Regions from separate parts of the Homo sapiens genome. Here region 2 is linked to region 1. The links come from fine-mapping of genetic effects on gene expression. Tissue or cell type: unexposed skin. Region 1 holds a variant in brackets; the other region holds the start of a gene. All regions are shown on one strand. Distances are from middle to middle.

The links. PIP is the estimated chance that this variant, and not a neighbour inherited with it, causes the effect.
Region 2: THSD4 starts here. The variant in region 1 is fine-mapped to the expression of THSD4 in unexposed skin (GTEx, PIP 0.98).

What each region holds. Positions count from the first base shown.
Region 1 is chr15:71,543,647-71,551,746 of GRCh38, forward strand. The region is part of intron 7 of THSD4 (thrombospondin type 1 domain containing 4); the gene reads left to right. Among named protein-coding and RNA genes, the nearest start is that of THSD4-AS2, 140 kb to the right of the region's middle. The variant A/G (reference allele first, on the strand shown) is at 4,321.
Region 2 is chr15:71,111,979-71,120,082 of GRCh38, forward strand. THSD4 (thrombospondin type 1 domain containing 4) reads left to right here and starts at 3,493. Exons shown (of 18, transcript NM_024817.3): 1 at 3,493-3,720. It overlaps CT62 (cancer/testis associated 62), which reads right to left and starts at 3,526. Exons shown (of 4, transcript NR_168260.1): 1 at 2,946-3,526; 2 at 1,653-1,785; 3 at 170-316. RefSeq lists silencers at 3,307-3,356, 3,393-3,570, 3,417-3,476, 3,507-3,646, 3,797-3,886 and an enhancer at 8,103-8,104.

The DNA.
Region 1 (8,100 bases):
ATTTGAGGAATGCAAGTATCCATTAGGCAACTGGGTATATCGACCTACAGGTCAGGAGGGAGACCTGGCTACAGATGGTTGTAGAGAATCACAGATGTGGGCCGGGTGTGGTGGCTCATACCTGTAATCCCAGCACTTTGGCAGGCCAAGGCAGGTGGATCACCTGAGGTTGGGAGTTCGAGACCTGCCTGACCAACATGGAGAAACCCTGTCTCTACTAAAAAATACAAAATTAGCCAGGCATGGTGGTGCAAGCCTGTAATCCCAGCTACTCGGGAGGCTGAGGCAGGAGAATTGTTTGAACACAGGAGGCAGAGGTTGCAATGAGCTGAGGTTGCACCATTGCACTCCAGCCTGGGCAACAAGAATGAAACTCCATCTCAAAAAATAAAAATAAAAAAAGAGTCATGGATGTGTAAAGCATTGGGGCCATTGGAAGGATAGGATGGCCCAACAAGGGCAGATAGAGAGGAGACAGGGCCTAGAATATAGGAATTTAGGAGCTAGGCCCAGGGTGTGTCAAGGAGTCCAGAGCAATGGTAACAAGGCAGTGCTGTCATTAAGAGTCAGGCTCTGGACAAAGGCTTTTAGGGTCAGAATGCCGACTGCCACCTACCGCTGTGTGACATGGAGCAAATTATTTAATAAGACTGTTGTCATGGTTACATGAAACTATTTTAAAAGTTTTTAAAATAATTTTAGTAATACTGGGCTCATAGTGCTCAACGAATGTTGGCTGATTAGAGGCAAAGGAAATCTAGAGCCATAGCCCTGGAAGCTATGGAAAGAGAGTGGTTCAAACAGGAGGACATACGTTTCACACCCATTAAGATGGTTATTGTCAAAAAAGTGGAAAATAATAAGTGTTGTCAAGGAGGTAGAGAAATTGAACCTTCATGCATTGCTGGTGAGAATGCAAAATGGTGTCACCACTATGGAGAACAGTTTGGTAGCTTCTCAAAAAGTTAAACATAGAATTACCGTATGATTCAGTGATTCTACTCCTAGATATATATCTAAAAGAATTGAAAGCAGGGATTCAAACAGATACTTGTACAGCCATGGTCATAGAAGCATTATGCGTAACAGCCAAATGGTAGAAACAATCCAAGTGTCCATTAACAGATGGATGAATGAACAAAATGTGGTATATCCATACAATGGATATTGCTTAACCTTAAAAAGGAATGAAGTTTTGATACCTGTTACAGAGTGGATGAACCTTGGGAACATGCTCTGTGAAATAAGTCAGACACAAAAGGACAAATACTGTAGTGTATGATTCCACTTATATGAAGTACCTAGACCAGGAAAACTCATGGAGACAGACAGTAGCATAGAGGTTGCCAGGGGCTTGGAGGAGGGGAAATGGAGAGGTAGTGTTCAGTGAATACAGAGTTTCTGTTTGGGATAATGGAAAAGTTCTAGAAATGAATAGTGGTGATGGCTGCACAACATTGTGAATGTACTTAACGCCACTCAATTGTATACTTAGTAATGGCCAAAATGATAAATTTATGTTGTCTATATGTTACCACAATATTAAAAGGAGGACATGGTTACAGAGAAGTAAATGAGTTCTTAGTGATTCTCTTTTGAATTTTGTGACACAGGGGCCATTGGTGACCTTTCCAGAGCCCTTGCAGTAGAGCAGACAGGTCAAAAGATTGCAGTGGATTGAAGGGTGATTGAGAAGTGTCTAGACCAGGGGCTGGCAAACTACTGTCAAATCTGGCCGCCTGTCTGTTTTTACAAATAAAGTTTTATTGGAACACAGCTACACCCATTCATGTGTGTGTTGTCTGTGGTTTCCTTTGTGCTATAATGGCGGCGTTGAGTAGTTGCTACTTGAGCCCACGTGGTCTGTAAAACCTAAAATATTTACCATCTGGCCTTTTACAGAAAGTTTCCCAACCCCTGGCTAGACAACACTCCTGGTCTTTCAAGAACTTTGGCTTTCTTAAATAATTCCTGCATTTCTCATGAGGTTACTCGGTAGATAACTTTGCCCCTTTAGTTAGGTAGCAGAACAGAACCAAAGCTGAACAGTAACAATGACTAAGAAGGAGGAAGAGGAAAAATTCATTCCTTTCTTTCCTTAACTGGAGATATTATCCTCACTATACCTTTTTTTCTCTTACAGCCCTGTAAAAAGGAATGAAAGTTCTTCCCTCCCTGTCCCCCACCAAAAAACTCCCCACTGGTAAATGGTCATGTGACTGGTGATAATAAACTTTCTGAGATGGCTACGAACTGCAGTTAGGTTTAAAGTTTCCTCATTAATGCAGGAAAATGCTCATAACCTGAGGCTTTTCAAGTGTTTATTAATTTACTTTCTGGGGCTGGCTGCTGATACTTATTTCAGATCAAAGAGAAAGCCTGTGTCTTTAGTAGTTACTGTGTGCCAGGAACTATGCCACATTTTGTGCCTAGGTGAGCTCATTGATAGTCATCATAACCATAGGATGGCATTTCCCTATTTCACAGGAGGGGAGACTAGGGCTCACCAGGGTTAAATACTCACCCAGAGACACACATGAAGAGTTTGAAGTACAACTGGAGTTTAACCCACACCTGCCTAATTCCAGGACCTCAGGGTGTTTCCACTGCACCGTGCAGTCATCCTATCCTCTGTGGCCACCAAGAGCCTCAGAATAGCACCTTGAGCCCACTCTAGGCAGAATACAGTACTTGATGGGTTCTAATCCATTTTAAACCATGGTCTCTGCTATTTCAGGATAACAGGTGACCATGTAAAGTGTATCTCAAGTGCATTGTAGGCTTTAGGAAGACCCTTTTCCCAGCCTGCTCCCCATGCTCCCAAGCCCCACTTTGATGGTCTATGTGAGTCTACTCAGAGGTAGCTCTTATTTCTTTAAAACCATCCTGCATTTCAGTGTACTCTGACAGCACTGTCTGACACTTGGGATTCACTTGTTCCCATGTTACCACCTATTTTTACATTTTCTGCAATAATTCCTCAAGCTCTTGGTTAGGCATAGTGACCCAGGGATGCAGCAAGAGGGGGATATAATGGCTTCCACAGTTCCCATCCGTTTGTGTCTATACAACTGGTGCACAAACACACATCACCCTTGTGACTTCTGTCCCTGTTGAGGCTGCCCTTGATAATGCAGCTTTTAACTGCCTAGATTTCTGCAACCATCAAATCAGATCTAAAAGGGAACTCAGAAGTCATTCACCCAACCTTTGTATAAGTGAGAAAAATAAACTGCAGCCCAGAGCGGACTGGCAACTTGTCCAGGCAAACACAGCTTGTCAGTCCCAGATCCTGGACTAGGAAGGCCCTGGCTCTCCCCGTTCCCAGCCCGGAGCTCATCCTGCTGCAATTCACTGCCTCCTCCCTGCCTCAGTGGACGAGGTAGGGGCTGTCCCCCTGCATGTGGCGTGCTTACCTTGGAACCCTTTTCATGAATGAGACCAGATGCAGAACTCCACATTGATCATTTCTGTCCCTCCCCTTTCTGCTTTCTGTTAAAGGCAGCCCCCCAGCTCCCAGCTGGCTCCTGTCCCCTCCCCCAGCCGGGAGAAGTTATTACATGAAGAGATCAGCTTACCAGTTTTCTTCAGAACAGAGGCTGAGCTCGAAGCGCCGGGCAGTACAGTGAGGGAGAGCCGAGGGAACCAGCGCGGTGCCTAGCGGAACTCCAGGGCTGGAATCCCGAGACACAAGTGCATCTGCTAGCTGTTAGCACTTGGCAGACGGAGTTCTCCTCTAGGGTAGTTCTAACTTTGGGTAATAATGTTTGTCAGCTACCTGATATTAACATTGCTCCACGTTCAAACAGCAGTGTTAGCAAGACCTGGGGGAGAGGTAAGCCAAATAAAATATCTTGTCAGAAGTTGTATTTTTTTTCAGCATTATATTTCCTCTTCTATCTACCAAGAGGGATCAGGGAATGGAATTTTATGGGGTGCAAAGAGTAATGCTTTATATTACTTTTGTAGGCTTCTCTTGCCTTTTCTTATATGAAGACTTCTTTTCTTCTTGAAGAATTTTATACTTTCTAAAATGTCATTTTGAAGCTGTCTGTGCAGTTGCCACACTGGGAAGTTGCTCTGGCCTTGGTGACAGATGCCTGTAGCACGCACGCTTCTCCTGCTGTAGCAGAAAAAAAAAAAGATGTGCCATGTCAGATTTCGTTAGGGACTGTTACCTTTTGAGAATTTTTCTCCAGTGCTGCAGAGAGAATGTACATGCTAGGGGAATTGCTTTTCTTCCCTGCTTTTGCAACACTTCTCTCTTTTTTTTTTTCTTTGATGTGCTTAGAAAAATCTGTGCTTAACTTTCTATCATAG[A/G]TTTGAAGAGGGAGAATGATATACAACAGGGCTAGGAGTGTACCCAGATGTACCTTAGCAGGGAGACATATTTTAAGTTCATGAGGATGATTTATTATTACTGGTTTAGTTCATGTGATTGTTGGGTACAGTTTTTTTTTTTTTTTAACATCAGTGATACCTCCTGGAGTCAGTTTTTGATGCAGGCAAAGAGATTGGGATAGATGATCATTGAGTCCAGAGAGGGAAGCACCTTGGTGTATCCACCCTCACCTGCAAACAAGCCTGCAACGTATTTCCCTCATCCACTCCTTTCCCTCCTTACCCTGATGCCTGAGTAACGAAAGGACAGCCTTTCTCCTGCATCCATCTTCGTCTTTGAAAAGCCAAATGAAAAGTGTATCTCCTAAAAAGGCCATGAGGCCACTTCACAGCTTTGCCTTTTGTTAGCCTTGTCAGGGACCAAGCAGGCTCTGAAAGCCTAATGTAATTACTTTCCCTTGTCTAAGAAGAGTGGAAGTGGGAGTGCTCCCAAGCCCACGGCTGCAAGGCTAGCTGTGGTTTCAGCAGGCTTGTTGCTCTGTTCAAAACAGACATGCAGCTCAGAGACATGCAGCAACGGGTCACTTGTTGTAGGCTTTTCACTTATTAGTTACTCATGTCCTCTGCTCTGTAGACATTTTCTGGGCCTGTGGGGGGATTGAGCCCTTGAATGGGAGCAGGAGGAACTGAATGGGTGAGTGATGCTGGAAGCTGAAAGCAGACCATTGCCCTCTAGTTGTAGTTGAAGTTCGCAATTTCCCTGTTGATTTTTTTCGTGTGTAGAGTGAATGACAAATGGGCTGGCCTCACTCAGCCTGGAGCATTTAAGCAGGCGAGAGGAGAGCTCATATGGAAAATATTTCTATCACCGCTGCATGCACATATGGTCTGGGGAGACCCCCGAACTGAGCAAATCACAGTGCTCCAGCAGCCCCTCAGTGGTGTGCCAATTATTCTTATTAACAGCAAGCAAAGGGCAGGCTTTAGTTACCTGCACACAGCTGACTCGTGGGGAAGGCCACGCCGGAATCTGTGTGCCCCTAGCCTTGTGTCACATGCAGAGTGGCAAATGGCTCTGCTTCACCTGACAATCAGCAAAGCAGATGAAAAATGAAAGGGATTATACAGGCTCACCCAAATCTTGGTGCTTTTCAGACAGTGCTCAGCGTTTGAGAGAGGAAGGCAGAGGTTTTGTCTTATGAGTTAAAAGTATGTGTGCTTAACATGAATAGCTAGAAAACCCGATCAGAGGTAGTGAGATGCCTGCCCTCCTGCCCCTTTGTTCCACTCTGCTTTGCTAAGTAAAGATCCTCTTGGGCCTCTTCCTCTTTTCTTTCTTGCTTTCCCTCTTTCCCCTAGTGTGTGCATGTGTGTGCATGCGTGTGTGAGTGCGTGTGTGTTTCTGTGCTGTTGGCTCCAGAACGCCTGAGCTCCTAGGAAATTATACAATTAGGATTCCTTTTTCCTTCTTGGAAATGAAATGATGAGGAAGGAGCATGAGTATGAGTAGCCCCCACCTCTTAAAAAGAATGTAGTTTATATAGAGCTTTGAAGAATGTGGCATTTATTTATAACAGCCTCTTTTTTATTGTCGTGTTACTTGCAAAACTTACCCATAAACATGTGGCGTCGTCACTAAGTCACCAGGATTTTCCTTTTCTCTGCCAGCTGGTTTTCTTGCAGGTTTTAATTATCTTCCCTTTGGATGTTCCTAAAAACACATGAGGAGAAGGAAGAATGGGTAAGAAAGCGTCATACACCTGGGGGCGCTTGGAGGGCTGTGTTCTCCACGTGGGGCTGGAAGCCAAGCGGCACACTCTGGGAAGCAGTTTACAGTCAGTTTTCTAGGGTGTGAGGTCCTTTCAGATAAGCAGGACCTGGCAGGTGGGGAGAGGAGGGCTGTGATGCAAAGCAAGCCTTGTTTGGCGTCCTGTGGCTGGCACTGTCAGTGCTGGTGACTGTGGTCCAAGGACAGAACAACCTGGTATGGTGTCAGTGCATGGGTTGGAGGACAGACACAGAAAAGAACTGTGCCTTCTTTAATTTTCCCATTGCCAGAGCATTAAACTCAGAACAGTGAGATCATGAGAATCCCTTTTGTCTTAGTCAAGGTTAGGGTGGCAGTCGTGTACACTTGTACAGATGGGGCGTATCCCCGAAAAGACTGTAAAGGACTTTTAAAGTCAAGCTGGACTTTTGAGGCATTTGTCAGCGTGGGGAGCGTGCCAACGTGCAGCTTCTTTGCAGGATGCAGCAGAATGGCGGGGAAGGGGAGGTGGGAATGGGAGGCTTGCATTTTCTTTCTTGAACTTGGACTTACCTTCTCAGATAAGACCAATGAGACATTGTTATATGTAGGGACAGGGAGGGAGATGCAACTAGAAATCTGCTACATTCCATATTTGGAATAATATGATAAATTCTGCAAAGTGTGGTCAAAAAGATGTTCTTTAATTTTCTTATTTTTGAGACAGAGTCTTGCTCTGTCGCCCAGACTGGAGTGCAGTGGCACAATCTCGGCTCACTGCAAGCTCCGCCTCCCGGGTTCACGCCATTTTCCCACTTCAGCCTCCCAAGTAGCTGGGACTACAGGTGCCTGCCGCCACGCCCGGCTAATTTTGTTTTTGTATTTTCAGTAGTGATGGGGTTTCACTGTGTTAGCCAGGATGGTCTCAATCTCCTGACCTCGTGATCCGCCCACCTCAGCCTCCCAAAGTGCTGGGATTACAGGCGTGGATGTTCTTTAATTTTGACGGTACAGTATGGCAAAACCTATCAAAATGAAAAATAAATATCTTAGCTGCTGATGGGTACAGACAAGGTTTCTTTTCATGGTGATGAAAGTGTCTTGGAATTAGGTAGTGGTGATGGTTGCACAATTTTGTGACTATCCTAAAAACTACTGAACCATATCCTTTAAAAGAGCAATTTTATGGCATGTAAATTATATCACAGTTTTTTACATTAAAAATAAATAAATGTCTTTTGGATCCAGATTTTCCATTTCTAAGACTTTTTATCATATAGGTCTACTCTGAGTGTGTAAAATGTTCTATGAGCCACCTGTCATAATTAGGTCCTTTCCATCCTACTGTCCTAGTGATAAGGCATGCTGTGCATTTATTCAGAAAGAATGAGGTAGCTCTAGATGTGTAATGAAATGACTACCAGGATATGCTTTTAGGTAGGAAAAGCAAATTGAATGTGCATAAAATGCTCCCATTGTGTAAAATGTGTTATCGACTATAATCACCATTGCAAATGCTACCAAGTGTATTAACCCTGTGCTGAAAAAAGAAAGGTGAAAAGACCAGATCTTTGTATTTGATGAGCTTATACTCTAAAAGGGGCACAGAATACAAACAGTGAATGATCATGCAATAAGGGTCTCTCATTAATTGCAAGAGCAATGGGAAGCTACCTAAGAAAGCAAAGAAAGATTCCACAAATGATGACATATTTGAACTGAGGCTTGAAGGGCTGTGTGTTGGGGGTCTTCAAGATAACCCCTAAGATTCAATTATCTGTCGTGATTCAGTGACTTAGCATACATTGGCAATCACAGCTATGATTTATTACAGTGAAAGTATACGAAGAAAATCAACAAAAGGAAAAGGTTCCTGGGGTAAAGTCTGGGGGAAACGAGATGGAAGCTCCCGAGGTTTTTTTTTCCCAGGGAAGGCACGCAGGACCCACTTACTTCCCCTAGCAATGGGTTATGACAACACATGGGAAATGTTGCCAGCTAGGAAGCTTGTT
Region 2 (8,104 bases), 430 kb before region 1:
GAAAACTGTGTTCCCCATAAGTTTCCCCCCAAAGGGTCCAGCTGTCCTGCATTGCCTTCCTGTAATCTGTTCACACGTTGCTCTTATTCCAGTTCCACATGCCCTGAACTCCCAGAAGGTTGCTCTCAGCAGTGAGCCATTCATTCCTCAGAGATTTGGGAGCCCTCACCACGTGCAGACGCTGTGCTGCAGGCTGGGAACCACAGGAGAAATGGCTGAATGTTCTGTGGGTGTGGCTGTAGGCAGAGGGCTGATCAGTGAGGTGGGGTGGTGACAGTCTTCTATAGGATGTCGTATGCATCATTTATCAACTTAACTAGGACAAGAGAATGAAGGGGGGTACTATTAATAATTAATTAATAATTATAATAGGACAACAGGTGTAAGCTAGAGCTGTCTTACATAGACAGAACTGACACATGACAGAAGAGTTATGTTTCTTGTCTGTCCCTTTAGGAGCTGCCTCTAGGGCCAGTGGATAATAATTACAGGGCAAAAGGTTTCAAGTCAAAATTAAAAGGGAATTTCTAACAAAGAGCCTCTAAGAACAATGTGGCTATTTTATGAGGTAGTGAGTAGCTCACCACATCAGATATGCAAAGGGGTGACCCACCCTCCAAGATGCTGTGTATAGCTGACACTGACATGCCAGGCAGGCCCCCAGCCTAGGTAAGCACAGGCTAGCCTTTGACTGTGATCTGAAGCACATATTCTTGGCTCTCTCTTTCGGTGAGGGTCAGTAAGCTATTTTATATGCAAGGACCACATTCTGCTCTTCTGATTCATACGTGACAGACACATTTGGATAAAAGCAGAAATATAACAGGACTGAAAGATTAAAACTTGCTGTCTTAGCATACTTAATATTCACTGATGCTTACACATAATGTAAATATCTCTTTGTTTAAAATGAGTATAGGCTGGTCTCTGTGGCTCACGCCTGTAATCTCAGCACTTTGGGAGGCCAAGAACGGAGGATCACTTGAGCTCAGGAGTTTGAGACCAGCCTGGGCAACACAGCAATACCTCCTTTCTACTAAAAATAAAAAATGAAAAAAAAATTAGTCAAATGTGGTGGCGCACGCCTGTAGTCTCAGCTACCTGGGAGGCCGCAGTGAGAGGATTGCTTGAGCCCAGGAGGTGGAGCCTGCAGTGAGCTGCAATCATGCCACTGCACCCCAGCCTGGGTGACAGAGCAAGACACTCTCTCAAAATAAATAAACAAATAAAACAAGTATTATCTTGACTTTAAAGAAAGAGACTTTCTTGTGACATATAAGCAAAATATGGTCAAAACAATTTGACCAAGGTTGAAAATGGACTGGAATCACTTCTAAGGAGCCAGCCTAGGTCTGTCGAATCAAGTTTGCTCACTAATAATCATACTTTGGTTATGTCGGATGTTAACATTAGAGGAAGAGGGTGGGGGATATAAGGGGATTCTTTGTACTATTTGTGAAACTTGTCTAAAATTATTTCAAAATTAAAAAATAACAAACAAAACCACATCCTTTGCTCCTGAGCCCTGTTCGCCCCAGACATTATGTGATGAACTCACTCCGTTCTTTAAGATCCAGCTCTGCAGAGCATCTCAGATTCCCTGTCCTGAGGCAGGTACTCCTGTATGAGCTCTTAAATACTTCTGCATTTACCTACCACCTACTGGTATGGTTTTCTGACTATATTTCATCTTCTTCGCCTCACGTGGAGTTTCTTTTAGAATGGAAAGTTTTCTTCCTTTCCTCTTTGAATCCTAGCACCAAGGCCACACTCGGCACTGAATACCTGTCTCGAATGAATGAATAAATCAATCTTGTTTGAACAAATCTTATTAGTTTTGCTTTTTTAAAATTATGGTAAAATGTACATAACATAAAAATTTCCATTTTAACCATTTTTAAGTGTATAATTCAGTGACATTAAGTACATTCTAAAGTTGCGCAGGTTTTTTTTTTTAAATCAGTTCTAAATGGTTTAAACTGGCCAGTATTTACTAGAGCTGTTAGATCGACTTAATTTGGACCCATGAGACTCGTGACACTCAGAATTAATCTAATCCCATTTACACCAGGTGCCTCCCATCAAAATCTGTTTGATCAAGTGTGGAATTATTTCATCCCATTGGAACCAGCTCTTGAATCAATCAGAACTGGCTCTGCCAGGCTCCGGGCCAGTAGTCGGTGCTCAAAATGGTGTTTCTTTCTTTGGCCTAATCTCTTGAGTAGCCTCTTTCCCTTTTGTTAATTTTTTTTTTTTTCTGGAGGACAATCTTCCCTGGGAGCTCCCTTCTGCTCCCACGAAGCGCTCTGCACCCAGCCCTGGTGCTGCCTGGCTCTGGGGCAGGGAGCTTGCATTCTGCCACCTCCTTCATTGTCCTCTCGGTATACCTGCACTTTCAAAACAACCCCTGCAGGCAAGCTTTAGAGGCAGCGATAAACAAACAGGCTGACTGAAATTTAGGGAAACGCCTGTATCTGGACAGCCTCTTCAAATATTTGTCACCCCCTCCCTGCTCTGGGGAAAGAAGAGACAGTTCCTCACAGTCACTCTATTTCCTGCCTTCCCAGCTCTGAACACCTTGGCTCGAATGTAAAGAATTTGGCTCTGAATTAGGACTCAAGAAACGGGGCCCTAGCAATTTTCCCTCCATTAACTAAACGCGTCACTTTGGTCATGCCCTTTTGGGGGCAATAATTTCCCAATTCGTAAAATGAAGGGATCAAAGTTTGATTTTTATCATTACTAATGAGAAGAATTATTATTTTTTTGCAGCAGGCTTTTTTTTCCCCAACAAAATATTACTCTGAATAAGACAAGAAAGAATCCCGAACGGCTCTGGCCGTCAGGGTGTGTGTGTCTCCTCCCCATGCTGTCTAACCCCCGTTGGAATTTGGAGGGCTCTTGTCCTTTCCCCTTGGCCTCAGAAGGAGCCCAGCGCGTCCTACCTTGCGTGGGAGTGTGTGTGTGACCAGGGCTCCTTCCTGCCCTTAGAGTCACCGCCCCCTTCTCGCACAGGTTTACAGCACCACTTGCCTCGCCCACTCCCCGCTTTGCCTCCGCCCCATCCTGATGCTGCCGGAATGGCTGTTCCAAATGGAAGGATGCCCGCGTCCGTCCCCTGCCCCAGTCCTTCAACAGGTCCCCACAGACCTCAGGATAAGATGAACGCGGAATTCAGGGCCTGGTCTCAACCGCCCTCTCCCTTTTCCTCTCACTTAGACGACCCTGGCCAGCTGGGCCACTCTCCACTCTCGCCCCCTCCCGCCCTCGTGGCCTCTGTCTAGACCGTACTCCCTCCTACTGGGTGATGTCTCTTCCCCTGGGACCCAGGGACCATCCCGTTGTTGACCTCCGGGGTCAGGGGTGCGGATGGGGGCCGGCCCTTCCCGCGGTCGCCGCCAGGGGGCGGCAGGAGCGGCTCCAGATGACAGCGGGAGGCCGCAAGAGGGGAGGGAGGAAGGACCGAGGGAGCGCGGATCCCGCTCTCGGATCGCAAACTCTGAGCCAGAGCTCTCCGCGCGCGCCTGAACCGCTGGCCGCCCGCGCAGCCCGACGCGGAATCGGGGCACAGCGGGAGCCCGTGCAGGGCGGGCGCGGGGCGGCTGGGCGGCGGTGGCGGCCGTCCATGCGGCGGCGCTCGGGGCTGCCCGGCGCCGGGAACCACGCGGGGGCGAGGCGAGGCGAGGCGGCCGCCGGTCGCTCCGGGACGCGGACCGCCAGGTGAGCAGAGCCGCGCGCCCCGCGTCCCCTGCGCGCCGCCCGCGCGGCCCCGACCCGGCTTCCGCTGCCCAGGCTCCGGCTCCCGCTCTCTGGCCGGCGGGGCGGGCTGGCGCGGGCTACCCAGTGGGTGTGTCCGGGGCGCCGCGGGCTGCGCCGCTCCGGGCTCGGGGAGCCAGCGCGCGCCTGGTCCGTGCGGACGGCTGCGCCTCCTTCTCTGGTTCTCTTCCTTGCTGGGAGTCTTGCTCTGTGCTGGCGCCGGCGCTCATCCCTCCACCCTCGACTCTAGGGACAGTCTTAAACTCTAGGGACAATCCACCTCAGTCGTCCCCGGGTCGGGGCCCCGTGCTCCCCGGGTCGGGTCGGAGGGGACCGGCGAGTGCACACCCAGCCCGTGCGCCCCCCACCTCAGCCTCGCCTCCCTCCCGCCTGGGGCCCGAGAGCCGGGCAAGTCTCGGTCAGCGCTCCTTGAGTCCTGGCCTGGGGCCTCGGATCTGTGTGTCTGTCTGTCTCAGTTTAGTTGCTGCAACCCAGCGAGCGCCTGGAGCCCGAGTGGATGGGTTGTTTCCGCCAACTCTGGACACTTCCTCAAGTGCAGCCTAAGTACCTGCGGCCCCTTGGCGCACTTACAGAAGTAGCTTTTGCACAGCGAGCTCACCTTGGAGCTCTACAGATCTGGAAGTTAAGTTTTCTTTTTATTTGAAATAACATCAGCCCTCACTTGGGAAGGGGATTTTAGGGCGTTCTCGGGCCCACCTAAGTATCTGGAATTTGTGGTCTAGTAAGTTTTTTAAGCAGTCCGCACCCAGCACCGTACCTCCCAGCCTCCTTTGCCGTCTTACTAAAAGTGCATGCTTGCTTCTCTTCCTGTCTCCTTTGCGATCTCTACCACGCTGCGCTTCGCCCTTTTCGGGCTATGAGTCTAAAGCTTGGACGTGGGTAGCAATCATTGGATGCCTGTTGGAATTTGGAATTAGAGAAATAGATACCCGAGAGAGATCTAAGGAATCGCCTTGTCCAACCCTCCTTTCACAGTTGGAGGCACCCAGGACCCCTGACAGTCTGAAGATTTTTCAAGGATCACACAGCTTTTAAAATCCGCGTGTCTTCTACTTGATTAATATTGTTGGAGGTGATGGAGTAACTGGGCTTACTAGGGTCTTACTGGGTCTCAATATACAAAGAAGCAAACATTTTAAAAATGTGACTTAAAATACGGAACTCTTCAATTCCTATAGATTTTTGTTGGCATCATAGTTGAATTCCTTTAGAAAACAAAATCCTAGCCCTGAAATTAATGTGAGGAAGCAAGCAGATGGGCGTCCTGGGACTTTCCTATAAATCTCTGCAGGGCTGGAGCAGGGATTTCCCAGAGGTCTGGGCCTGGGAAATGAGTTTGGGTGATCAGGATACTGGAGCCCCTTCTGAATAAGCAACTGGGTTGGTTTCTTGTGGGGAGGCTGGCCAGTGGAACTCATGTGATCTCCTCTGTGCCCAGCACTGGGCGGGGCACCAGCTTGGCATTACCTTCTTTTTAGTCTCCTATGCCATAAAGAAATATTTCTTACTGGCTGTTAGCGAAAGAAAAATACAGCCCAGAGTTTGGGAGGAAGATCAGGGGTGGGGAGATTTTTGACTTGGAGTTTGTTTTTGTTTTTGCCTCGAAAAACTTGTGGAGATTGCAATCAGTTATCCTACACAGAGGCTGTGTATTGCCGTCTTCTCCATCCCCCACATTTCTCTCCATGGTACCACTTTTATCCTAATTGCTGGGAGTCTCAATGTTTAAATGTTCCCAACACTCCCATTCTGTCCCCCACATTTATAGCTCATTCATCGCAAAATCTCTTCCACATTCTTTTGTGATATCTGAGGAATTATTTACCTGTCTCCATTCCCACTGCCCCCACCTTCAACCATGTCCAAATTACAGTAATAATCTCCCCTCTTGACTCCCAGCCACGAGTTGCTTTCTTCATTTTAATCCATCTTCTTTCATGCTGATAGATTAATATTTCTGAAATTCTGATTTCACCACATCATTTCTCTCAAGAAATCACAATGGCTCCCCAGTATTCACTTCTATTTAATTTATCTCCAACAGATATTTCTGAGCGTCTGCTATGTGCCAGGGACTGTTACTATGTGCCAGGGACTGTTACTATGTGCTGGAGCTTACGCTATGAACAAGACAATATCATTGCCTTCAGGGAGTCCACAGGCTAGCAGATGATAAATAACCACCCAGGGGAGAAAGGGAAGTAAAGAAATAACCGCAATACAAGGGGGATGTGCAAAACATCAAGGAGATGCGAATGAGGGAGAAATTGATTCTGCATGGGAGGAGCTAGGGCAGTTACCACTGGGCTTTGAAGCCTAAGGAGGAGTTCAAGGAGATGGGAAAGGCTGGTGGGGAGGGAGGACAGGCCAAGCAGAGGAAAGAGCTCGAGGAAAGACTGAAAGATAGGAAAGTACTGTATGGACACGGTTGAATCCAGGTTACTTTTCATCAGGGCATTTAAAATGTTTCCTAATCCCAGTCTACTTTATTGATCCAAGAGCCATCCCAACGCCTTCCTGCTTGAAGGCCATCCCTCCACTCACCCAGTCTCTATCATGGTCTTATCTGCCCTCCCCACACCTCCCATCCCCAGCTCAGAAATTCAGATTTCCCCTCTTCTGATCTAAATTTTGCCAGGCAGTGTATCCCACCCAGCCTTTCTTGCACACACTCCTGTGTCTCTTCCCTGCATTCTTTGTGCCTGCTCTATGTTCAGCCTGGATGAGCCTCGCCTCCCCAGCCACTCTGAGGTTTCCCCCGAGCAGCCTCCTTGGGCCTCTCCAGGTCATGGAACACACTGTCCTCATGTTAGTGGCCCCAGCACACTTGAAAGCACATGACTATTTGCCTGGGTTTGACCCCTCATCTCACTTTTCTCTTCTCTCTCCTCTTCTTTCTGGTTTTCCCATCTTTTTCTTTGCGTGTGTATGCAGAATCGTGATGTTTACTTATGCGCAGATATAAAGGTTTCATGTGTATTTGTTGAATATCCTCGCTGTGAAAATGGATTAAAAATGTTATGCTGGAAGCCAACACATGATGCAGGCTGACGCAGGTGAGGAGAAGATTCAGGGGAAGCTCTGGCTTTAGGCTGCTTTGCTGCCTCTGGCCCCCTCTTGGGATCCCCCAATTTTACTCCTCCTCCGCAGGACCGCTGTGCTGAGGCTGGGACACCCCTTCATCATCTAGGCCTGTTTTGCTCTCTTTTCCTCCTCCTGTCAAAACTTACTTCTGTGCCCACAGCCTCGCTGGCTTGTTAGCCTCACTGGGGCCATGCTTAGTGAGCACTGGTGTGTGCAATGCTTGGGGCTTTCAGTGGTTTCTCTTTTAATCCTCCCAGCCACCTAGAAGGGAGACATCAGCATCTGCCTTGTACAGGAAGAAAGTTGAGGCTTACTTGCCTGAGGTCAGCAGCTCAGGTTTGGAGCTGAAATCTTAAACCCAGCTCTCTAAATCTGGTGTTCTTTCCACTATATCATTATTTCCTGAAACAGTTGTCTTAGGAACATCTGAATCAAAATTCAGATCTGGTGAAAGAAAACACAGGCTCCAGGGTGGAAGCAGGGCTCGAGAACTGGCGTTTTTAAGATTACCTCAGGCGATTCTTCCGCACACCCAGGTTTGGGGACCACTGCCCTGGGCTTCCTTTACAATGTGGTTCTAGCGACAGGTGGTGGGTTAATACGCCACTTTATCCCAGGCAGCATGTTCCTTTTTGACAGAGGCCCTGACTTTGACTCTAAGGAGTGAGCAATGGAGAGTTGTGGCCAAGGCCAGGAAGAGGGTCCTCTCTTTTGGCCCGAGGGGTCTTTAGTTCAGTCCTGAAGGCCCAGCCCCCTCAGCTTACTCGAAGGCATGTAAACCCACCTGCCACCAGACTCACTGTGAATTTCTTTTGGGACCTGAGCGAGTGCTCAGGGAGAAAGACCAGGGTGGGTTTGTTCAAGAGCCCCAAGTTGCTTGGTTTGGGACCCCCCGAATAGGGCTGGACAGGCAAAGCCAGCCCCTTCCTCCCTGCAGGCACGGTGAGTTGAACCTCCTTTCCCAGAATGGGATCTGGCCGTTGACAGATCTCTTTCATTCAACTGGCCTTGCTCCACTTCCTACCCACCCAGCCTCAGTTTCCCCATGTGTAACAAGAGGATGGCCAAAGTCTGGAGGGCTGGTGGGGGACCAGTGCATGGGTATGCAGAGCTTAAGGCAAAGCCCTAAGGCACATAGCAGGCGCTCAGTGTTAGTTCTCGCCCCATTTCTTTACTCTGTGCCTGATCAGTGCTTGAGACAATTGGAGCTCAATGTATTGCTGTAACAAAAATGTATATGTAA